Regions from separate parts of the Homo sapiens genome. Here region 1 is linked to region 2. Evidence: fine-mapped expression QTL. A gene starts in region 2. The other region holds a variant in brackets. All regions are shown on one strand. Distances are between the middles of the regions.

Region 1 (12,118 bases), 220 kb after region 2:
AGGTGGTTAGGAATTCTAAGTCACAGGATGAGTAGGAGGTCAGCACAAGATATAGGTCACAAAGACCTTGCTGATAAAATAGCATGTGGTAAGGAAGCCAGGCAAATCCCACCGAAACCAAGATGGTAATGGAAATGACCTGATTTTCCTCACTGCTCACTATATGCTAGTTATAATGCCTTAGCACTCTAAAAGACACTCTCACCAGCACCATTACAGTTTACAAATGCCATGGCAATGTCAGGAAGTTGCACTATATGGCCTAAAAATGGGAGGAATCCTCAGTTCCTGGAATTGCCCACCCCTTTTTGGAGAACGCATGGATAATCCACCCCTCGTTTAGCATATAATCAGGAAATGACCATAAAAGTGGCCAGCCAGCAGCCCTCTGGGCTCCTCTGCATATGGAGGAGTCATTCTTTTGTTTCTTTACTTCTCTAATAAACTTGCTTTCATTTTATGGATTCACCTCAAATTCTTTCTTGCATGAGATCCAAAACCCTCTTTTGGGGTCTGGGTCCAGACCCCTTTCCAGTAACACTTTGTTTGTAATATGAGCTCTTTGTAACTGATTCACTAGAATAAATGACATGGGATTTTCTACAGAGATATTTGAGGTCTTTACCTAGGACAAAGTAAGTACTTTTTTTAAAAAAAATAAGCTTGGCTGGAATAAAAGATTTTTTTCTGGTTTTGTGTTAAGCCTGACATCTATGGGTTGGGCTTCTTTTAAGTGATTCAAGTTCTCCATTATTAATTGGTCAGAAAGTCAGCAATGACTGTTCCAAACTTCAGTTTTCAATGCTCTGCATTTTGAATGACTTCTGCCTTCCTGGTTGGCTAATTGGGGGCTTTCTCCATTCTGTCTGAAAAAGGACTTTTCCTGCAAATGGTGCATCAATTGAGGGAAACCTTATCTGGGGCTTACCTTAATGAGGGTCTCCTCAAATATTTCTCTGAGGGTAATGTATGAGTTAGGAGTAAGTGGGCTACTGTGTTTCTTTTTTAGTGTGTTTTGTTTATACTTATTTTAACTTTTAAATTCAGAGGTACATGTGTAGGTTTGTTATATAGGTAAACTTGTGTCATGGGAGTTCGTTGTACAGATTATTTCATCACCCAGGTATTAAGCCTAGTACCCATTAGTTATTTTTTCTGGTTCTCTCCCTCCTCCCACCCTTCACCCTCTGATAGGTCCCAGTGTCTGTTGTTCCCCTCTATGTATCTTTTTTCAGGTGACATGCATCTGGAGAATAGTACACATAGCCTTCAGTGTAAGAAAAAGCAAACCAGAGTTCACTTCACCCTTAGGCACATAAGAAAAGTTCTTTCTTTTTCCTTTCATCACAATGGCAGAGTGAAAGGCAAAAGATGTGTGAGGCTGAGTAGAGACTGAATGTGATTAAGTGTCACTAGACTGGTCAGCTTTCTATCTAAAAGCCATTGCAGCTAATTTCCCAATTCATATTCATGTAGGAACATAAGACAGAAATACCGAACACATGGAAGGGGCTGTTCAGAAGGTGAGATGTTACAGAGAAGTCTACATACCACGCATACCAATCAACCTGAGTGAACAAACATCACTATACCCCTATGAAATTAGATGTATAGAAACTTCCTTAGAGTAGTCTGAAACTTTAGGGTTTGTCAACATTGTTTAACAAAGCCACAATTTAGGAAAAAAAACCAACAATTATATGCATATACTTTTAATGAAGGATATAGGAAGATAAAGCTGGCCAGCATTTGTCAATATTTCTGCACCAAGACACATGGTTTTAAGAATACTATATACAATCATTTTGAGCAGATTGGTGGGAAAAATAATTGTAGCAGATTGGCAACCTATGCTTAACTTCTGAGGTCTCCTTTTCTGGCACTCTAATATAGTTCATATATTACCAAGACCCACTGCCAGCTTTCCTTTTATGTTCCTTCACTGATTAAGCCAGCAGAGTGAAAGTAATTATTCCTTGAATGCATCTTATCTAATTTTTTTTTCCTTTAATGCCATTCCCTACTAACAATCTATTTCCTGGTATATTGAATTCATTGTTGGTTTTAACTCATTCTGCTGATGGCTGTGTACCATCCTGCTACAAAGAACACATTTAATGGTTTTGAACACTGTGCAGGACACAGACCTAACCCTTTTAGGGAAGTAAACAGTCATGGGTTGCATGCTACTAGGAGCCACCCATTCATTATTATATAATACCCGCATGCAAAAGGCTACAATTTAATATGGTACATTACAGCTATGGTTAAAGAAATGCAGATGTACCATACCTCATCAACCAATTCCTAACGAGATGGAACTCATTAATTTTCTAAGAATATGGATCTTGTCCAAGGGCCTGACAATCTCATTAGATGCCCCCTGTGCTTCTCCATAGAACGTCTTCTGTACCGAATCTCTTAGCTACTCTGAGAGCAGAGATTCTGGAATGTATAAATCTAATGTTCTTCACATGCTGTGTTTCTTAGACTCTTTTTCTAAAAGGAGAAAACAGATAATCATTCTTTTAAATTAAAGTATTTGCTCCTGCTGAAGAGGCAGCCTGCTTTGGAGAAAATGTGTATGTGTGTGTGTGTGTGTGTGTGTGTGTGTGTACATGTGCATACATGTATGTAGATATGTGTGATGAGAGGTGAAAAGAATAGGCTTTCAATGACTGTTACATTCCTATGAATTTGGGCCCTGTTAAATTAATTTTAGGTTCATGTTACAATAATGTATAATATTCAGTATTCTTAAAACTTACTTGCTAGGATTGTGCTTAAATCTCCATTAACCTCAATGTCTATACTTTGTGCAATTTGGTATAAACATGGAGTGCATTCTTTACCTTGGCAATGTCTGCCCTGAGATTGGGCTCTATGGTGCCACAGGAGGTAATGGCACTGGTTGATGCCACATAGTGTGAAAAATATGTGTCACATGGGGCTAGTAGGGGAAAGAGGCACATATTGCATTCTTATCACATAGAAAGTAAGAGTTGTACAAATTGCATACTTTTCAGATTTTTGACAAAATGTGACTCTTTCAGAATGTGATCCTGTTGTAATTACTCTCAAAATTCTAACTGCTCCATGATAATTCCAGTCCTGGGAAGCCAAGTTACTTTAACAATGTACTGAACATGGTAACTGTGAGCCCTGCATAAGACAGCTGTGTTCCATTGGGGACCACTTAATCTCTTTTCCCCTTAATTTTTCCAGCTGTACCATGGGGAACAATTTTTTTATTCTGTCTCTTTCTGAGGACGCTGTTGGAGTGAATGGAAGAACATTAACAAAGTGCTCTAAGTCCTGCAAGAACAAATCAGCAATGAGAGCATGGACAAAAGAATGGAGTACATTATTTTGCTTAGAAATACTGTATGGTTAAGCTTTTCATTCCAGTCCTATAATTAAAGACATATAAGAGCACTAGAAAGTGACATAGCACCCTTCAGCAGTAGGATCCTAACAATGAGTATCTTCATTTTGCAAACGGAGAAAATGAGTATCAACAATTAGGGAATGAGATTCCACAGAGGTTATTGGACAGGGATCCAAAGAAAAGCAAGCAAAGAAGCCAGATCAGGGTGTGCTAATTATTAAATAAAGTTCTGTATTCTTGATTAATAATCAACCAGTTGGGTACCTATGTACATTAGTCAATACTCAAATGATCCATGGATAGGGATATTATCAGAGTCTATAAACCAATGAGACCAAAATGCTAAGATAGGAATAGGTTTTCTTTTTATCTCTGAGCCCCTGGTAAAACCCTGATTTATTTGGCTTTTTTTTTTTTTTTTTTTTTTTTTGAGACAGAGTTTCACTCTTATTGCCCAGGCCGGAGTGCAATGGCACGATCTCAGCTCACCACAACCTCTACCTCCCAGGTTCAAGCGATTCTCCTGCCTCAGCCTCCTGAGTAGCTGGGATTACAGTCATGCACCAACACTCCTGGCTAATTTTTGTATTTTTAGTAGAGACAGGGTTTCTCCATGTTGGTCAGGCTGGTCTTGAACTCCCGACCTCAGGTGGTCCGGCCGCCTTGGGCTCCCAAAATGTTGGGATTACAGGTGTGAGCCACTGCGCCCAGCCTTATTTGGCCTTTTAAAGACAGTGTAAATCTGTAAGACATTAAACAATCAGCTTTGCATTACATCTTTCCTGAGCTTTACCTCTCCGGAACTTCCTTATAGTTAACTGACACTATATTTTGTGACTTGACTTCTGTGGGAGCTGAGTGCTGATACACCCTATGCATCAAAGAAGTTCTTGATGTTTTTCTGACTTTGAATCACAGTTAACAGCTGCTCTGCCTGAATGCTTGGCAGAAGATGATTGATGGGAAAGAGGAAGATTACTTTGAGGCCTACTTGCTGTGTAGTAAGTAAAGGCCATACATGTAGAAAAAGGTGCATATCTATATGAATAGAAGACAAGGCTTGTCTGTCATAAAACCATGGGAATGGCCAAATAAGGTTTCAGGAAAAACCGAAATGAGAGTATTTTGAGAAAGAGTGTAAGGGGAAATTTTTTTCCATCTGAATATATAAGAAGATTTCATCTTGAAACCCAGTGTGTGCATAGTCATCTAGGCTGCTTTTTAGCTTCTGAGTTTGAGAAAGTCACTAGCCCTAATAAGTGTAGTCATGTCTAGTATTCTCTCAAATGTAATGCTGACCACAATCCATTTAATTTATGCCAAAAGTCTCACCTTGGTCAAAATTACCTAGGGATCCAGATGAACAGGTTTTGTTGTTGCTTTAAGTAGCTGGATTGTTCACTTTCTCAGCTCCACTGGAACCCCAACACTAAATTGTGGCAGGCAACTCTTTTTTACTCAAACATATTTCAGGGAAGATAAATTAGTAAGCCAAACCATCCCTCTAGAAGCTCAATTCCTTGATACCTGTAAGATGCTTCTAAATTCCACTGATCTCTAAAAGAGTTGGAGCTTTTATTGTCAGCAGCTGGGCACTAGACTGCTGGATGAAAAAATGAAAGATATCAATACTCTTAAGATATTATTATTGTAAAGAATCAGTACTAGTATTCTCACTCATTGATTCAGGCACTAGGACTAAAAGAAAGGCTGATTATAAATAAATGGGGAAATTGATGCAAACTGTATTAATGGCTTAGCTACTACTGAAGCTAAAAAAAGAAGAAAGAACTGGCATATTACTATTTGGTTATCACTGTCTGTACAATAGCCCCTGCTATGAAAACACAGCTCTTTAGTGCTAATCCTCAGGCTAATGTCAGCTGTGAAACTTTACCCTTATGAAAGGCAGTGAAATTAAACCTGAAAATCACTCTGAAAACCCTTAACAAAACCTATGGGCCATAACTTAGGCTTATAGATTTTCTTTCATCATAAAATAACTCATAAAGGCTAAAATAAAACTAGGAAGCAGATAAATGAATAAAAGTAATTGGAGAATTTTACTGCACCCTGACAAAAAAGTCTTTAAAAAACACTGGTTATTATGTTCAATAAAGTTTATGTCCTGAATTTGATCTTCTTGAGTAGCTGTGGTGCTTTCAGGAACATTTGTGACAGAACAGGTTTTACATTGTTGTTCAAATTCCAATTTGAGGACCTTGGTCACAGTGTACTGATTCACCCTCCCAAATTTTAGATACTTGATATAGCGATGATTCAAAGTCTAGCAAATATTTAAGTTGCTATTTAGAGGAAAAGCATAATTAAACAAAGGCTTCAGGTTTTTAGCCCTGATTTTCACACTATAGCAGAATTTTGTATAGATATGCTGTACGTGTTCACAAATGCACACGCACACAAGCAGCAAATGTAGTTTGATTCCCTTCAACACCAAAAAGGCCCTATATATGTGATTAATAATCTTTGTGGGGGAATTAAAGACTCTAAGGAAATTTTCTGAATTTCCTTTTACCTGATAAGATGAATGAAAAGATATATTTTACATTTAGGCTTTCATGGATTGGGGGAGGGGAAATGAAGAAACAAAAAAAATTGGCTTGAATTAACTGCTACCAAATTCCAAATTGGATTTCAGTCAGTAAATTAAATAACATAAAGTCCAGAAACATTTACACAGCAAGTATTTGATGGAATTCTTTCAAATTTTGAAGCTTTCAATCCAACACGGTGACTTATTTTGAAGATTACAATGATTTCCAACATTGAACTCTGTAAGCCTCATGGGAGGCAGAGATGGTGAGTCCTGGGAATGAAGAGAAGAAATTCACAGATGAGCTGAACAACTGTAAATATTCATGTGGTAACACCCACTTGACAATAATATGCAACCATTAAAATTACATTTATGAAGAGTATAGATCAGCACTGAAAAATGTTAAGTGAAAAAGGCAGGATATAAAATTATATATACAATGCTATATTTTTGACCCCCAAAATTACATTTGGAATAAGAGACTGAGGAAATACACTGAACTATTGAAAGTGGTGGATTCATGGGTAATTTGTTTTCATTTCTCTACCTTCTACTTGCATTTTCCACATTTTCTTTAGTAAATATATAATTTGATACTTCAAAAATACTATTTTTGAAATCCACATGGAAATAACAAGAGCTTTGAAATTGGGCAATTATGAAGCTGAATTCTAGCTTTGCCTCTTATCTCCATAACTCTAGAAAAATAATGTCAATGGATCCTAGTTTACTCATCTGTAAAACTGGTATAATATAATCTTCCTGAAACAATATCTGGCATATAGTAGGCCCTCAAGTAGCTATTTGTTTAAGCTTTCCGGAAAATGATTTGGCCTTATCCATTGACCCTTTAAAAAATTCATACCAGTAATTTTGCTTCCAGGATTCTATCCTATGGAAATGATTATAAATGAGGAGAAAGATTTATGTTTAGTGATATTATTCACAACATTATGATGATGGAAAATTGGATAACATATCTTATTAAATTTATTTTTATTTTTAATTTTTATGGGTACATAGTAGGTATATATATATTTATGTATTACATGAGATATTTTGATACATGCATGCAATGCATAATCATCACATTTTGGTAAATGAGGTATCCATCACCTCAAGCATTTATCCTTTGTGTTACCAACAATCCAGTTATACTTTTATAGTTATTTTAAAATGTACAATTAAATTATTTTTGACTATAGTTACCCTGTTGCCCTAGCAAATACTAGGTCTTATTCATTCTTTCTGTTTTTTTTTTTTTTTTTTTTTTGTAGCCATTAACAATCCCCAATTCCCCTCCAGCACTCACCCCTCCACTACCCTTCCCAGCCTCTGGTAATCATCATTCTACTCTCTAACTCCATGAGTTCAATTGTTTTAATTTTTAGCTTCCACAGATAAGTGGACATAGATGAAGCTGGAAACCATCATTCTCAGCAAACTAACACAGGAACAGAAAACCAAACACCACATGTTCTCACTCATAAGTGGGAGTTGAACAATGAGAACACATGGACACAGGGAGGGGAACATCACACACCGGGGCCTGTCGGGGGCTGGAGGGCTAGGTTTGGGATAGCATTAGGAGAAATACCTAATGTAGATATACCACGGGTTGATGGGTGCAGCAAACCACCATGGCACATGTATACCTATGTATCAAACCTGCACGTTCTGCACATGTGTCCCAGAAGTTAAAGTATAATT[TA/T]AAAAAAAGGGAACCTCCTTAATCTGATAAAGCTATCTAGAAAGAATGAGAGAGTGAGCATCTACCACACACAGGGACAGGATAGAAAAATGGTTCATTAAAAAAAAAATTCTATGCCTACCATATGACTTAGCCATCCTACTCCTTGGTACTTACCCAAGCACAGGTTCACACAAAGTCTTGGTCACAAATGTTTATAGCAGCTTTATGTGTATGAGCAAAAAACTAGAAACACTTCTGATATCCATTAATAGATGGAAAAGTAAATTTTAGTGTGTGTGTGTGTGTGTGTGTGTGTGTGTATATATATATAATATATGTATATATCCAGTGGAATACTACTCATCAATAAAAAGAAATCAATTATCCTTACACACAGCAACAAAGGTGAATCTCAATTATGTTGAGTGGAAGAAGCCAGACAAAACAAAAAAATACATTTGTACAGATCTACTTGTTTAAAATTCTAGAAAATGAAAACTGATAGTAACGAAATAAATCAGTGTTTGCCTGGTGATGGCGCAGGGGTTATTTATAAAAGTGCAGAAGAAAACCTTTGGGAGAGATGGATATATTCATTATTTTGATTGCAGCGATGGTTTCACAGATGTAAACGTATTTCAAAACTCACCAGATTGTATATTATAAAAGTATATAGTTTTTTTGTAGTATAAAGGCACAAAAATGCAGAATAAAATTAAAGTGCTAGTTTCTTTGAATTAAAAAAGTATGAGATTTTAATGTTTTTATACGTGTTTCCAAGTTGCACTCAAAAAATGATCTATGAATTTAAACTCACATCAGCATTGTATAAGAACATCTGTTTCAGCATGTCCTTGCCTACAATAGGTACTGTAATTTGTAAAAATTGGCTGACTTAATAGATAAAAATTAGTATTTTAGGTTATTTTAATTTGCATTTCTTTACAGTGAAGTTGAACAAGTTTAATGTTTATTTTTCATTTTAATTTCTATTTTGTTGATTGTTTGCATCCTTTGCCCATTTACTTTTTACAAAATTTGAAAATAATTTCATCTTTTATTTTAGATTCGGGGTACATGTGCAGGTTCGTTAGGTGGTATATTGTGTGATGCTGAGGTTTGGGGTATAGATCCCATCACCTAGGTAGTGAGCATAGTACCCAATAGGTAGTTTTTCAACCCACCCCCTTCTGTCCTTCCCCAACTAGTAGTCCACAGTGTCTATTGTTGCCATCTTTGTTTCCATGGGTACTCAATGTTTAGCTCCCATTTATGAATGAGAACATGCATTATTTGGTTTCCTGTTTCTGTGTTAATTTTCTTAGGATTATGGCCTCCAGCTGCATCCATGTTGCAGAAAAGGATAAGATTTCATTATTTTTTATGGCTGTGTAGTATCCATCATATACATGTACCACATTTTCTTTGTCTAGTCCTCTGTTGATGGACACCTAGGTTGATTGCATGTCTTTGCTGCTGTGAATAGTGCTGTGATGAACATATATGTACATAAGTCTTTTTGTTAGAAGGATTTATTTTCCTTGGGTATATATACCCAGTAATGGGGTTGCTGGGTGGCATGGCAGTTCTAAGTGTTTTTGAGAAATCTTGAAACTGCTTTCCACGGTGGATGGACTAATTTACATTCCCATCAACAGTGTATAAGCATACCCTTTTCTCTGGAGCTTCACTAGCATCTGTTATTTTTTGACTTTTTAATAATAGCCATTCTGACTGGTGTGAGATAGTACCTCATTGCGGTTTGGATTTGCATTTCTCTGATGATTAGTGATGATGAGCATTTTTTTTCATATGTTTGTTGGCTGCTTGTATGTCTTCATTTGAGAAACGTCTGTTCATCATGTCCTTTGCCCATTTTTAATGGGGTTGTTTTTTTTTTTTTGCTTGTTAAGTTCCCTATAGATTCTGGATATTAAACTTTTGTCAGATGCATTGTTTGCAAATATTTTCTTCCATTCTGTAGATTGTTTTTGCTACTGATAATTTCTTTTGCTGTGCAGAAGCTCTTTAGTTTAATTAGATCCCACTTGTCAATTTTTGTTTCTGTTGCAATTGCTTTTGGGGACTTGGCCAAAAATTCTTTGCCAAGGCCAATGTTGAGAAGGGTATTTCCTAGGGTTGCTTCTAGGATTTTTATAGTTTGAAGTCTTACATTTAAGTCTTTAATCCATCTTGAGTTAATGTTTGCATATGGAGAAAAGTAAGGGTCCAGTTTCAGTCTTCTGCATATGGCTAGCCAGTTATCCCAGCACCATTAATTGAATAGAGAGTTCTTTCCTCATTGCTTTCTTTTGTTGCTTTGCCCATTTTCTAACTGTTGTGTTTTTCTTTTGTTTACTGATTTGCAAGAGCTTTGTAAATTAAGCATATTAAATTTTGTGTGTTGTATAGTTTGCAAATATTTTTCAAGTTTGTCTTTTCATTTTGAAGAAAATATAATCTAGAATAAGTACATTTTTGGGGTAAAAATTATGGCAATAATTTTTTATATACAAAATTTAGAGGCAAAATGAAAAAATTAGCATTGATTCTACATTTTAAACACAAGGGATTCATGTTTTCTTTCATCCTTTTTTATTTAAAAAACTTCAAAAGAAAATGAAGGGAAATATATATTAAATATCTAATTACTTGGACATATATAATGTATTAATGCATTCTTCTACTGATAGACATTCAGGTTGTTTTCAGTTTGGAGCTTTTTACAAATATCACTGTAGTAATTATCTACATACAGTTTAAACAATTCTTCATATCTTAATAAGTTTTAAAAGGTTTCTCCCACTCTTCCCTCCTGTGTTCCCAAGTACTTTTCTATTATTATCAGAATATGAGGCCCGGCACGGTGGCTAATCCCAACACTTTGGGAGGCCGAGGTGGGCAGATCACTTGAGGTCAGGAGTTAGACACCAGCCTGGCCAACAGGGAGAAACCCCATCTCTACCAAAAATACAAAAAGCAGCCGGGCGTGGTGGCACACACCTGTAATCCCAGCTACTTGGGTTCTGAGGCAGAAGAATCACTTGAACCTGGGAGGTGGAGGTTGCAGTGAGCCGAGATCACTCCACTGCACTCCAACCTGGGCAACAGAGTGAGACTCCATCTCAAAAAAAAAATATATATATATGTATATATGAGTTTGTGATTTCCACAAAATGAATCACTTTATTAATATATTTGGACAGAGTGCCCTGTAAAAGGCATAAGGCATTGCTTGAAGGCAATTTTGCTTATCTAGGGAAGTATATAAAAAATGCATTTCAAAGTTCCTTAGCATATTAATGGTCCTGATAAGTATTGCACGAAATACTAGGTTCCATGATAGGCACAAAAAAGAAAGGATCCAACAGTTAAATAAAATTTAAGGGACCACTACAACCTCCTTTTGGTGAGCCACAAAACTCAATAGTGTAGTAAAACCCCTGAGAATTCCTACACTAAAGCCAACTTTCTAATTTTGCTTATATAGGGTTTTATAAATTTATTTACCAGATAATTTTTCTTCCCTTTAACATCTGTTACCATGCCAAAGTAGTAGTGTTTCCCCTAGGAAAATACTAAAATAAAATAGACAGATTAGCACCACAGATAACCCAAATCTAGATATTACTATCATATAAGTTGTCTTACCTAAACATCAAACATTTCATCAGGGCTTTGGATAAGGAAACAGACTTGGTTCTCTCCTTTTTTAATCTTTGATAATAAATAAAGACACATCACAAATAACTCAGATTTTGAAATGTAGTGCCATGGTGGAAATAGCATGCTTTGAGGTCAGATAGACCTGAGTTACAACCCTAGGTTGGCCACTTACTACATATGCAGACTTGGATAAGTGATTTAACCTCTCTGCATATCAGTTTTCTCATAAGTAAAATGGGAATAGTAACATTCATCTTACAGTTGATGTGAGGATTAAATAAGATCATATATATCAAGTACACACCAAAGTGGCTGGCATATACAAAGTTTTATACAATATGTACACTTGTACACAGCAGAATTTCTGTAAGGGAAAGAACTGAAGACCTGGGAACCCACGAACAGATTGTAAGCTTCTGAATAATTGCTAGCTTTTTTCATGAGAATAGGATTAGAAGTTTCATCCGATCAGAGCTATAAGCTCTATGGTATTTCTATTACTAACATTCTTTTAATATTTAATTACACTGGGTTTATACCTGTGAGTGTTGCAAAAAGAAGGTCGTCGAGCTTTTCACCAGGCCAAAGAGAATCCCATGTGTAAAGTTGTCTGCCACTACTTAACAAACTCATAGCATTTTAGGAGGGTTACAGTGTAGGAAGGATGCTTTTTTGCCCTTAGTGGGGAAGACTAGGTTATTAACTGACATAATGGAGTCAGGCAAAAGAAAGCTATTTGTAATCTGTACCATTTCAGAGACCTGGAATGAAACAGGAGGAGGCTTATAATTCACAGTATGAGAGTAAATAACCT
Region 2 (12,540 bases):
AACCCATGCATAAAGTAATAAGGGTCTAAAACTAGGGCAGAAGTTAAGGGACTGAAAAGGACAGAAGAGGCCATTGCTACTACAAAGAAATGTTCATCTACCTAACCGGATTACTGTGAAGACCAAATGACATTAAATAAAGACTTGAAAAGTATCTTTACTCACTAGTGGCAAATCCTACAAGGGAGTCAAGAGAGCACAGATGAGGACTTCAGGGAGATGGATTTCAGGAAAGGAAGGAGAAAATCAAAACAACAAAAATATCACATTTTGCAGGTAACTATATATACCTATTAACATTACTAAAATCTTAAGTAATTAAAAGACCTAATTTTGGTCAAGACTGAGCACCAAGAAAAAAAATGCTCACAAGTAAAAACAGAATTTAAAATTATCCCAATAATGTAAAAATTATGTACATGAAAGAACAGAGATTCAAAGGAAAAAGGAAAAATTATTTAACATGTGGGATTGTAGATATCTGTCTTGACGTTTTTATTAGATGTGGTTTTGTATAATTAAAATGGGGACAATGTAAAGCATAAGAATCGTATACAGAATGGGCAATTTTATCTCTTATTATATACCTTATTTTACAATATGGGAAAGAACATACTTTTCTTTGAAAAAGCAAAATCTTTAAGATAACACTGACAACAATACAGCAATAAATGATATTAATTTTATAACAATTGTATAACAATAATTAAATGATCAATTATGCATTTATCATTTAATCAAAATTTTGATGTAAGTTTCCACTCTATTTCTACCCCGCTGCCCAGTGACAAGTGCTCTTTATCTTGCCACTGGCTACTCAGGAACACCATTAGAAACCCACCAGCCAGCAATATTGTATTAATCAGGGATTACTGACTGGAAGAGGGGATAGGTTTCTGATTCCCCTGAAATTGCATGCAAAATGAAGCACATACGTATGTATATTTTTCTAGGGAGAAGGTCTATGGCTTTGATCAGATTCTCAAAGGGCCTCGTGTTCTAAAAGAAAGTTTAGAAACATGAAATTTTCTTCCTCTTCCTAATAATCTTAATAACTAGTTAAAACCAATGTGTCAATGACTTAGAGAATGTTATTTATTCAACTATATCTGAAAAAAGAATCCCCTGAATTCCTCTTCTCAAGTCCCAGTGCCACTTTCCATTCCTTACCATATACAGCCCATGTAAGGTATATCTTTATTTACAACTTTTATAGCATTACTGTTATTCTTCACCACCCCTTAGAATCTATTTCTACCATCCCAGATGATTTCGGAACCTAGCTTACTTTTTCCTCCACACTACTTCCATCCTCCCAACACTACCAAATACTAAGCTCATAATTAAATTACATTTTTCTATTCCTACTCTTAGATATACAAATATGACAAGAACAATACAAATTTGTCCCATTAAAAATTCATGTGAACATAAACTTACCCTATGTTGCTCCTGAATACTACACCAGTAGTAAACTAGGATCACAAAGTAGAGGTACTATATAAAAAGGGCTGGTCCTAAAGGATTACAGTAAAGAAACAAGAGAGTTGCAAGAAACCTTAGAGATCTGGTAGTCAAATATTACTAGTTTACAGGATCTGATGTCCAAAAGAACAAGTTATGTGTCCAAGATAATTAACAGTACAAATAGAGCTCAGGCGGTCAAGTGTCCTGGTCCAGTGTTCATCCCACAATACCAAGTTATGCCCTTTGCACACCAGTTATTTCATTATTTTTAACATTTAGAAATAAAAATCTTTTAAGTCATCTGTATTTTCTTTACAGTAAGGCTTACTCCTACCTCAAGACCTCTTAATAGTATTCAATATCATTCCTTCCAAGCTTACTGTGTGAGAACAATGTAGGGGACAATTAAAAGCCGTGTTGAAATCAAGATAGACTGTCACTCACTCATATGAATAATTGGTTTGGTATGTCTTGCTCTTTTCAAAACCAAGCTGGCTGCTTCCTAACAGCTCGTATTTTTCTAATGACAGCAAATTATTGTTTAATAATTTTAAAAGTCTTTATTGGTCTCCTAATAAAAGGACTATGCTTTTAACATTTGTGTCCCCCTAAAATTCCTATATTGAAACTTAATCACCAATGTGATGGTATTAAAAGGTGGAGTCATTGGGAGGTGATTAGGACTTGGAGAGTAGAGCTCTCATAAACAGGATTAGTTCCCTTATAAGAGGGGCCAAAGAGCTGCCTTGTCTCTTCTACCACATGAGGACACAGCTAAAAGGCACCGCCTATGAACCTCAAGACCTCACCAGACACTAAATCTGTCAGCACCTTGAACTGTGAGAAATAAATTGCTCTTGCTTATAAGTCATGTAGTTTATGGTATTTTGTTATACCAGCCCAAACAGACTAAGATAGACTATTAGTCTAAGAAATTATTTCTCATATGCACATTAAATCCCTCTTCCTGCAAATGAAGTCCACATCTTTGTATCATAACCTAATGTTCCAGTTAAGTTTAGGCATCACTGAACTACAAATAACCCCTTCAGGTCCTTTTTTTTTTTTCTTTTTTTTGAGAGGAAGTCTCGCTCTGTCGCCCAGGCTGGAGTACAGTGGCGCGATCTCGGCTCACTGCAACCTCCGCCTCCAGGGTTCAAGCAATTCTCCTGTCTCAGTCTCCTGAGTAGCTGTAGTCACAGGTGCACGTGACCATGCCCAGCTGCTTTTTGTATTTTTAGTATGGACGGGGTTTCACCATATTGGTCAGGCTGGTCTCGAGCTCTTGACCTCAGGTGATCCACCTGCCTTGGCCTCCTAAAGTGTTAGGATTACAGGCATGAGCCACTGGGCCAGGCCGCTTCAGGTACTTTAAATGTCACTGAATCACCTCTCACCCTTTTCAGTTCCATGATCTATAATCCACTTAAAGACACCCTTATTTCTCTTGTAAGTTCTGTTTTTGTTGTTGTTGTTTGTTTGTTTGCTTGTTTTTGAGACGGAGTCTTGCTCTGTCGCCCAGGCTGGAGTGCACTGGCGCGATCTTAGCTCACTGCAAGCTCCGCCTCCCGGGTTCACGCCATTCTCCTGCCTCAGCCTCCCGAATAGCTGGGACTACAGGAGCCCGCCACCATGCCCGGCTAATTTTTTTTGTATTTTTAGTACAGACGAGGTTTCACCATGTTAGCCAGGATGAATAAGTTCTGTTTTCTATTCTTTTAGTATATTTTGGGACGACTGTTGAATAATCACTGTAGTTTCTTCATAGGCATCTTATATTGTTAAATTTAAATATGAACTAGAACCTCTAAAATATAGAATAGGAGGATTATTTCCCTAGTGTTGTTATTATATTCCCACTTCAGTTAATATGAAAGCCAGGAGTAAAGTATTTTAATTTTTATCTACTCTGCTAACTCTTAGCAGCCAATGGTGGAAGAGTAGGAAGGTGGAACTTGCTACTGGGAGAAATTAAAGCTCCCATTCTTGGTCCATGAGGTCAGACCAACAAATGAAAACAAAACAGTACCTATCCAAAAGAACTACCATATTCCACAACCCAGGTCTAGGGCATATACTGGGTGAGAAATACTTACAATGAATTCCAGTAATCACATACATGTGGGACTGTGTGTGTGTGTGTGTGCGTGTGTGTGTGTGTATATATATATATAAAATATATATGTGTGTGTGTATATACACATAAAAGTTCATGAAACAATACTTCACTTAAGATGTAAAAAGCACTGCTATTTTCTTTATATTCTACTGAATTTCATCTAAAAAAGTGCTAATCCAACCCACTAACATTATTTCATAACACTGCTCTAAGGTTCCTTTCAGCTCTAAAATATTATGCTATATACTAATGATCGTCCTAAAAGTATGAATTCAGTAATTATTTTGTAATCTTAATCACAAGTCACAAATTTGCAGGTACCTCAGGTTACCTCAGCTTCTACTTTGAAAACTTTGTAATCATTCCTTTCTCACCCTGTTTTAAAAAAAGGATGGCAAGAGTTCCATGCCTTTAAGAAACAGAAAACAAAGGTAACATCTTTCCCTTGTTTTGCACACTGAGGAAATGGTAACTAAAGGAAATGGTAGGATGTAAAGGACAGAGTGGAAGAAGGAAGTTGTGGAGATAGCGTTCATGGAAAGAGAGAAAGCTAAATTTGTATTGCCATTGCCTCCTCTGAGATTCCTAATAACTTCTCCTTTTCCCTCTTCCCCCTCATTCTTCCAGCTTAAGAAATTTTATCTTAAGATATCTAATTTTATCTAAGATAACATTTACAAATTTTATCTTAACTTCATCTGCCTTATTGGAGAACTACAGAACAAAAACCATTCCCAAGAGATCATGTGTTAGAAACTTTCAACCATAAAATACTTTAAAAACCTTAATGAAATCATCTAGATTCGCTTCGTTAGCCTAATCTGCTATTTCCTATCTTGAATGACTCACTACAGTCTAAACTACGTGCAGTTCTAGAAAAGGTCCATGTTCTCTCTGACTTGTGGGCCTTTGCACATGCGATTCCTTCTTTAACTGGCTAACTTCTAATTTTTCAGCTCTTGCCTTAGATATCAGTTACTTAAGGCAATCTTCACTACCTTACAATTAGACTTAATACCCCTCACATATACTGTCCCATACCTTGTACCTTTCCCATTATTACACAGCTCCACTATATTTTAATTGCCGATTAATTTACATATTTCCCACTAGATTTTAAGCTCTTTAAAGACAGGACTTATATTTTGTTTGCTCCTGTAGAGGTGTTCAATAATTACTGAATGAATTATAAATGTCATTCCATCAGCCTTCCACATGCTTAGTGTCATTCCCTATTCTCCCTGTTCAGAACATTCTCCCCAGTTCTATCACCAGCATGAAATACTCTTTATAACCTGGTCCTTAATTATCACTATTTCCTCTGGATGCCTATAGCCTTTATTGTACATACTATTCATTTGCTAATTAACCCACCACTGTGTTTTTCAGTTATTTTTGTAATGCATAGATCCAATCTCCTTAACTAAACTGTACAATCCTTGAAGGCATAACTGTATGTCTCTCTTAGTACCCTATCATCTAGCACAGGGCTATGTACAAGGTAGACGTTAAATATTTGTAGATGAAGAATCAAAATTTAAGAGGTTGTTTCTCATACAAAACTGACAATATTTTAAAGTGATAGTGATAAATACGTGGTGGCAATTAAACCTCTTGTCAATACACAGAAAATAAAAAGATATACTTTAGTACAGTTAAGTACAAATAATTTTTTAAAAAACCGTTCCTGAGTGAGAGGTAATAATGGACTCAAATTTTAGGAGGCACTACAACCATAGCTACATTCATAAGTTAAGGATAAGTAGCCTATGGCTTCCAAAATGACCTGTGCACAGAGAACATCACTGTATTTTTCAGATCTAGGACAGTCATATTTATACAAGAATTTAGGGCGGTCTATGTTTTGGAAAGATAGTTACGGTTTTGGCCTATCAAGAAGCACGCCTGTCAGCAAGGGAGTTAACTGGCGCCACCTGTTTATAGATAGCTTGCTGTCATTACAGTGCTCTCCGAATTGCTAATTCCAACTGAGTAAAATCTGAACCACAGATAAACTGTCCCAAATTCCATTACTAATTGGGGAAAATAATCCAGTCTTCCTCGTCTTTAGAAAGGCAAGCAGGCTGGGAATGGTGTCTACCCCAACTCTTAATATGAGAGAAAAACTATGACTCCGAGAGCCTCCAGCGCTCCAGGTGTCCTCTGCCCAGAACCTCCTGCCCCGTTTCCCTTTGCTGAACTCAAAGGTTTTCTTCTTCGCCCTTTCCTCAAATTACTGACGTTAATTTCCTTCACTTACTGCTGCTCCCAGTTAGCCATGACTTTCTTCTTGGTGCTCTCTCTGCCCCGAGGTCAGGAGGGCAACCTTTTCCCTACAGGTCCCCTTGCCCTTCACCCTATTCTTCCATGTCAGTGGCATCTCACCTGGTAGGCTCGAGCGGTTCCCAAGGCGCCGAGTTGATGTGGCCTCCACTGCGGACCTGAGCCGCTAACAGAGACTAAAGGCCGGATCAGAATCGCGGAGTGCCGGCGCTTTTCGAAAGCAGCCGCCGCGGCCGCCCAGCGCCAAGAATGCATCGCGAGCAGCGCCATCTTGAGCGAGGAAAGAGGAACCGAGAGAAGAGGATTATGGGACACTGGCGGACTGAATTCGGCTACCTTAATTGTCTCTCCTCTTCTTGTTTTCCCAGGGCCCCAGACCGGAAATGGATTCTGTTTGAAGATTCGGATGCATTCGCACAGCCTCTTTTATTTGTTTTTCCTTAGGGCCGAGCTTTGATTGTTTTCCTTACACAACCGGGAATATTGGAGTAACACTGTATTTTTCTCTTTTCCTGGAGTTGCCAGATGAAATACAGGATGCCTACCTAGTTAAGTTTCAATTTTACATAAACAACGAATCATCTCTTCGTGCGTGTGTCCCAAATATTGTATCTGCTAAATCTGTCAACCCCATCTTGTCTCTCATAATACTCTCTTACCTCCTCCAACTCAATGTCACGCTCCCCTCTCTCCATTTTCCCTATGCATATTCTTATCTTCACTCCCTTCTGAATTAAGGAAAGATTAAACTACAGACGTTAATTTCCCCTGGGAGGAGGCTTCAGCTGTAAGATTTACTGCTTTTCTGTCCTGTAAGGACTTTAACTTTGCTGATTGTTCTCTGTTGCGCAAACCTTGGGGCAGTTTTCCTTTGGTCTGTTGCTCGTGGGACAGTCTCACACACACACACACACACACACACACAGAGAGACTACAGACATCTTTACTAATTTTGTCACTCTTTCTAGCTCTTCGCTTTGGTTTTTGCAGCGTCCCTAATTCTTGAAAAATCGCTTAGGTTGGCTGAAGGGTGGTAAAGTGAAATGTATGGAGAGAAGACCATGTTTAAAGACAGGCTTATATTCTTTTGTCACCACTATTATCAAACAAAATGTCAAAATATGTTTACAGTTATCTAGGAAACTGCATTTCCAGTTGTAAATGTTACCTGAAACCCCGGAGACAATAATGCAGTTGCAATTTTATATTCACTGCTGCATTCTCCAACTTTTCACACAAAAGAGACAAATAATTATGGACTTCTTATGAAGAGGTACTTTGGACTAGTAAGTCTGATAAAGAAAAACAGAAATCTGTAGCCCATGCAGTTAGCTTTTTTGTTCTGGGATTCATTCAAGGGGATGCTTGAGCTAGTTATTTAAAGAAAAATAGAATTCAAGTTGAAGAGGTTGACTGGAATTACACGTAAAGAAGATGACATGTTAAAAGCAAGAAGGCATAAGAAAATATTTTCAGGTTCAGGAGTCTATGGAGTTTGGGAAAGTAGTAGGAGGTTAACCTGAGTGAACAGAGACCTGATGGTAAAGGGCCTTCTATTTCATTCTAAGAAGTTAATACTTTATCCTATAACCAGTGAAGAGTTTTAATCAGGAGAGTAACATGATCAGATTTATATGTCCATTAAGCTACTCTGGCTTAAGTGAGAAGGTTGGATTGGACGGAGTTCATATTGAAGTCATGAAGTTAATGCAATAGTTCAGTCATAAAATAAAGGCCTCAACCTAGCAGTAGCAGTGGCAGTAGATCGATTGCAGGGCAATTAGGAGATGGAATTGGCAAGACTTAGTGACTAATTGGATGTTTCTAGCTTATTATTGTATTGTTGACAGTAGATCAGTAATGGCTTCATATTAATGACTATATTGTCATCAACAAATATTTATTCAGCATCTATTCTGTGTTAGACAGCTACAGTATACATTAGAGAAACTCTAGACTCTACTAATGATTTCTCTTAGGGCTGAATATTGCCACTGAATCTTACCACCCAGTTGTAAAGTCTTTGAATGGAGCCAAATTATTTTTTTCCAAAAGTAGTGCTCATTGTAAGCCAACTGTTTTGATCAAAAAGTGTGAATAACATTGAAATACCCAAGTTGTTACTCTATGATGAGCTAAAGTGAGGCAAATATTTATTTGCCAAATAAGCCGAAGAAAATTTCCAGGGCACCCAGAAATAGAACGTGAGGCATAATAAGAGTTGCACACTGCTGGGGAAGAGCAGCAACAAAAAGGCCAACTCAGCCTGTAATAACTTGACACATAACTGTCTGACATAAATTAAAGAGACAGAGGTATACACAATAAAAGCTGCTATAAATAGCTGCTACAACCACAGATCACATGATAGCACTTTATGTATGCAATAATTAAATGTGTATAGTATTTTGTAACTTACAATCCGCTTTGTCATACCTTATTTCATTTAGTCCTCACATCGACCATGGAAGATAGGTATTATTTATTAATATGCCCATATTTATGAGGAAACTGAGGCTAAGAAAAGTTGTGACTAGGTCAGAGGCCACAGAGCTAATGGGATGGAGACCAAACCTAGGTTTTATGACTCCAAACATAGTGCTCTTTTCACTTAATAACACCTGAAATGTGGAAGAAACACTTGAGCAATTTAAGAAGGCCACAGTGGTCTTCTGTTTCTAAAAAATACCAGAACTTATTCTCACCTCAGGACCTTTCCACTTGCTTTCCCCTCTACCAGGAATATCTTTCCTGTAGATTTTTAAATGACTTTTTCTTATCTTTCAGGTCTCAAAACAAATGTCACCTGCTTAGAGAAGCTTTCCAAGAGAACCTTATCTGAAGAGGCCACCCCCTGTCCCCACCACTCTGTATCACCATTGCCTTGTGTTATTTCCCTTAAAATCTTGCTATTCCAATGTGATCCATGGACCACTAGCATTGGCATTACTTGAGAGGTTGTTAGAACTGCAGAATCTTTTTTAGCTATTTTGAACTATACAGTAAGTTGTTGTTAACTATAGTCACCTGCCCTACTGTACTATAGAACACTAGATATTACTCCTTCTAACTACATTTTTGTACCCATTGACCAACCTCTTTTCATTGTCCCCTCCCTTCTGCTCTTCTTACCTTCTGATAACCACTATTCTACCCTCTACCTTCATGAGATATACTTTTTTAGCTCCCACATATGAGTGAGAACATGTGGTATTTGTCTTTTTGTACCTGGCTTATTTCACTTAGCATGATGACCTTCAGTTCCATCAATGTTGCTGCAAATGACAGGATTTCATTGTTTTATGGCTGAACAATATTTTATTGTGTATGTACACCACATTTGGAAGAAAGAGAATGTTCCCAACATAAAGAAAAGCTAAATGTTTCTTTATTTGATTATTACCTTGTTGTATATATTGTTTATGATATCATATGCATCATGTATCAAAATATCACATGTACTTCAACAATATGTACAGCTATTACATAGCAATAAAAAAAGAAATGCAGAATCTCAAGCCCGATGCCAGACTTAAATATTCAAAATCCGAATTTTAATTAGAATGCCTCAGGTTGTTCATATGCACATTCAAGTCTGAGAGGCACTTTTAGAGCACGTATCACTTTCTGAAACTAACTTATTTTCCATGTACTTTTAACATTTGGAAATATTGAATCATAACTGAAAATTACAAAGAAAAACGTAATCACCATGTACCTACAACCCAGCTTAGTCATAGCTTAAGATTTTATGATACTTGCCTTAAATTTTTTTTTTTTTTTTTTTTTTTTGAGATGGAGTCTCACTCAGTTGCTCAGGCTGGAGTGCAGTGGCACAATCTCAGCTCACTGCAACTTTCGCCTCCCGGGTTCAAGCGATTCTCCTGCCTCAGCCTCCTGAGTAGCTGGGACTACAGGTGCATGCCACCACGCCCGGCTAATTTTTTGTATTTTTAGTAGAGACGGGGTTTCACCGAGGATTGTCTTGATCTCCTGACCTCGTGATCCACCTGCCTCGGCCTCCCAAAGTGCTGGGATTACAGGCGTGAACCTCTATGCCCAGCCTGCCTTAGATCTTAAAAATAATGACTTAGTTGAAGATCCCGGCATTGCCCTTCTCTAATCCTAGTCTCTTTATCCTTGTGGATTTATTTCTGTTTTATTCTTTTATGTTATTTTGGTGGAGTCTGTAAGGAAGAGGCGATAAATAGGTTTGATTTTCCTCTTCGTTTTCTAACCTCTAGACATTTCCTTTGTTTGCTTTCAAGCTCAACTATGCATTTTTTAAAAACTTTGGGGCTTTTTGTTGCTACTTTTAACCAACTTGTCTGTGTTTGGAGTCTGTAGGGTAGTGTCTCTTACATGTTGTCAGTTAGCCCTCTTGTCTCTATTGTATACCTCTTAACCTGGTTTACACTTTAAAAAATGCAGCCCAAAATTACCCTTCCCCCAAAATAAGGTGCATTGCATAAAGATGTTTATATCAGTGTTATTAATAATAGCAACTTTTTCTGTCGTTTTACTTTATTTGTTTATTTATTTTTTAGAGACAGAGTCTCGCTCTTGTCACTCAGGCTGGAGTGCAGTGTTGCAATCACAGCTTACTGCAGCCTCAAGCTCCTGGACAAGGGATCCTCCCGCTTCAGCCTCCCAAGTAGCTGGGACTAAGGTGTGTACGACAGTGCCTGACATATATTTAAAAAATTTTTTAAAGATGGGGTTCGCTATGTTGCCCAGGCTGGTCTCAAACTCCAAGCATCAAGTGATCCTCTTGCCTCAGCTTCCCCAATGGCTGGGATTTACAGGCATGAGCCACCATGACCAGTGCAACTTTTGAAAATAATTCCAAATATTCCAAAAGCAGTTCAACGAAATACCTCAACAGCTATTATTTGAAAAGTATATGTATGTACTTGCGTTGATACTGTATATGGGAAAGTATATATGAAATAATGTTGAATAAAGAAGAAACAAACATATATATACATTTATATGTATGAATATATAAACACATACACACATGTTTATTACTATTGAGATTTTAGGAGAACATTGCACAAAATAAGTAGTTGTTTTAAAGTTATGTTTATCACTTTTTTTCCCTTTTTTGAAGGGAATATTTATTGGGCATTTATTCTGTTTTAAGCACTGCACTGCACTGCACTGGGTGCTTTAAGTTGTATCATCGAATTTAATCCACTCAACGCACATAAAGAGTGGTTTCTGTTATAATCTCCACCTTACAAATGAGGAAAAGAAAGCTCTGGGCTTGCCCAAGTAGTTTGGAAGTGGTAGAGATGATATCCAAATCCAGAAGGTCTGATTCCAGAGCCCATGCTCCTTGTCACCATGCCATAGAGGGTTTTAATAATAGTTGTTTGTATAAAAATTAAATTTTAAAAATGAATGCAAAGTTTTAGTTATTTTTTAACTTAATAAAAATTTAGAGATTTTGGTAAACTTTAATGCTTAACCTCCAGGGGAAAAAAAATCTTTTACAAATTTGTAAATGAGCTGGTTTCTTTGCATATCATGCAAAATAATATCTTAATCCTCATATATAATAATAACAGCTATTAATTATCGAGTGCTTCATCTGTAACAGGGAGTAGCTACTGCTTTACATACATGATCATATAATCCTCTCCAATATTGTATGAGGTAGCTATTATTATAATTACCATTTTTTTCTGCTGATGTAACCTGAGACTTACAGACATTAAAGAACTTTCCCAAGATTGCTTACCTAGTAAACAGCGGAGTCAAAACTCAAACCTAAACCTGACACTAAAGTCTATGCTGCCAACCTAAACTATGCTGCCTTTTCTTGTATGTGTCAATACCACCTGTAGGATTTAGGGGGCATGCCAAATCTGTTTTCACTGTAATATTGTGGGCAATCCTATGTATTATAAAACAGTGACCCAGCTTTATCTCGACAAAAATAATCTTGTGGGAATTTCGTAGGACTGTGGGACCCCATGTAGATGGCACAATAAGAATCATCTCCTTTTGAACACTATGCATTGGGTCCATCCCAAGAGTCATCATGTGTATCCCTTAGAAATATTTCTAGGTATACCCTAATTTCCTTCTTTCTTTTCTTTTTTTTTTTTTTTTGTATTTTTAGTAGAGACGGGGGTCTTACCATGTTGGTCAGGCTGGTCTCGAACTCCTGACCTCAGGTGATCCACCCGCCTCAGCCTCCCAAAGTGCTGAGATTACAGGCGTGAGCCACCACGCCCAGCAGGTATACCCTAATTTCAAGTCTCTTGAAGATCTAACTTGCTTGCTGTTTTAAAGCTCCATGGTTTTACTCTGGTATGAAGGATCCAGTGAACTGTGAAAACTTGTCTTTTTATCTGTGTGGCATGTAGACCCATGATAAAGCTATAGATTAATAACTCAGTATGATGTTTTTAAGCTCTCAGAACTCACTTCAAAGTTTTCATCTTAAACTCTCCAAGTTGCAGTTTCAAGATATTCTAAAAGATGTTGAAGTGGGGTGAGAGAATGTGAATGAGAAAAATTAGTTATCTGGAAAATTATTTTAATAAGATGGGTTACAAAGGGGTGGATAGGCTTGAGTGTGACATCAATTTTTAATAGGCTGAGCCTGATGAGGGTTCATATCTGTCTATTAATGTAATATCACTAAGATACCTCTGGCT

Direction of the effects. Alleles are on the strand shown, and positions count from the first base shown. SD is a standard deviation of normalised expression in the study named.
For the expression in aorta of the gene that starts at base 6,150 in region 2, TA is the high allele of the variant in region 1 and T is the other (moderate effect, 0.51 SD a copy in GTEx).

Evidence for each region. PIP is the estimated chance that this variant, and not a neighbour inherited with it, causes the effect. A credible set is the group of variants that fine-mapping cannot tell apart.
Region 1: its variant is the best candidate, but not a certain one, in a credible set for the expression of ABCB7 in aorta (GTEx, PIP 0.65).

Annotation. Positions count from the first base shown.
Region 1 is chrX:75,366,731-75,378,848 of GRCh38, forward strand. It overlaps ZDHHC15 (zDHHC palmitoyltransferase 15), which reads right to left. Exons shown (of 12, transcript NM_144969.3): 12 at 1,697-6,215. Among named protein-coding and RNA genes, the nearest start is that of UPRT, 99 kb to the left of the region's middle. The variant TA/T (reference allele first, on the strand shown) is at 7,656.
Region 2 is chrX:75,150,134-75,162,673 of GRCh38, forward strand. It overlaps ABCB7 (ATP binding cassette subfamily B member 7), which reads right to left and starts at 6,150. Exons shown (of 16, transcript NM_001271696.3): 1 at 5,972-6,150. The coding sequence starts at 6,139. It also overlaps a transcript of UPRT not described here. RefSeq lists an enhancer at 5,831-6,260.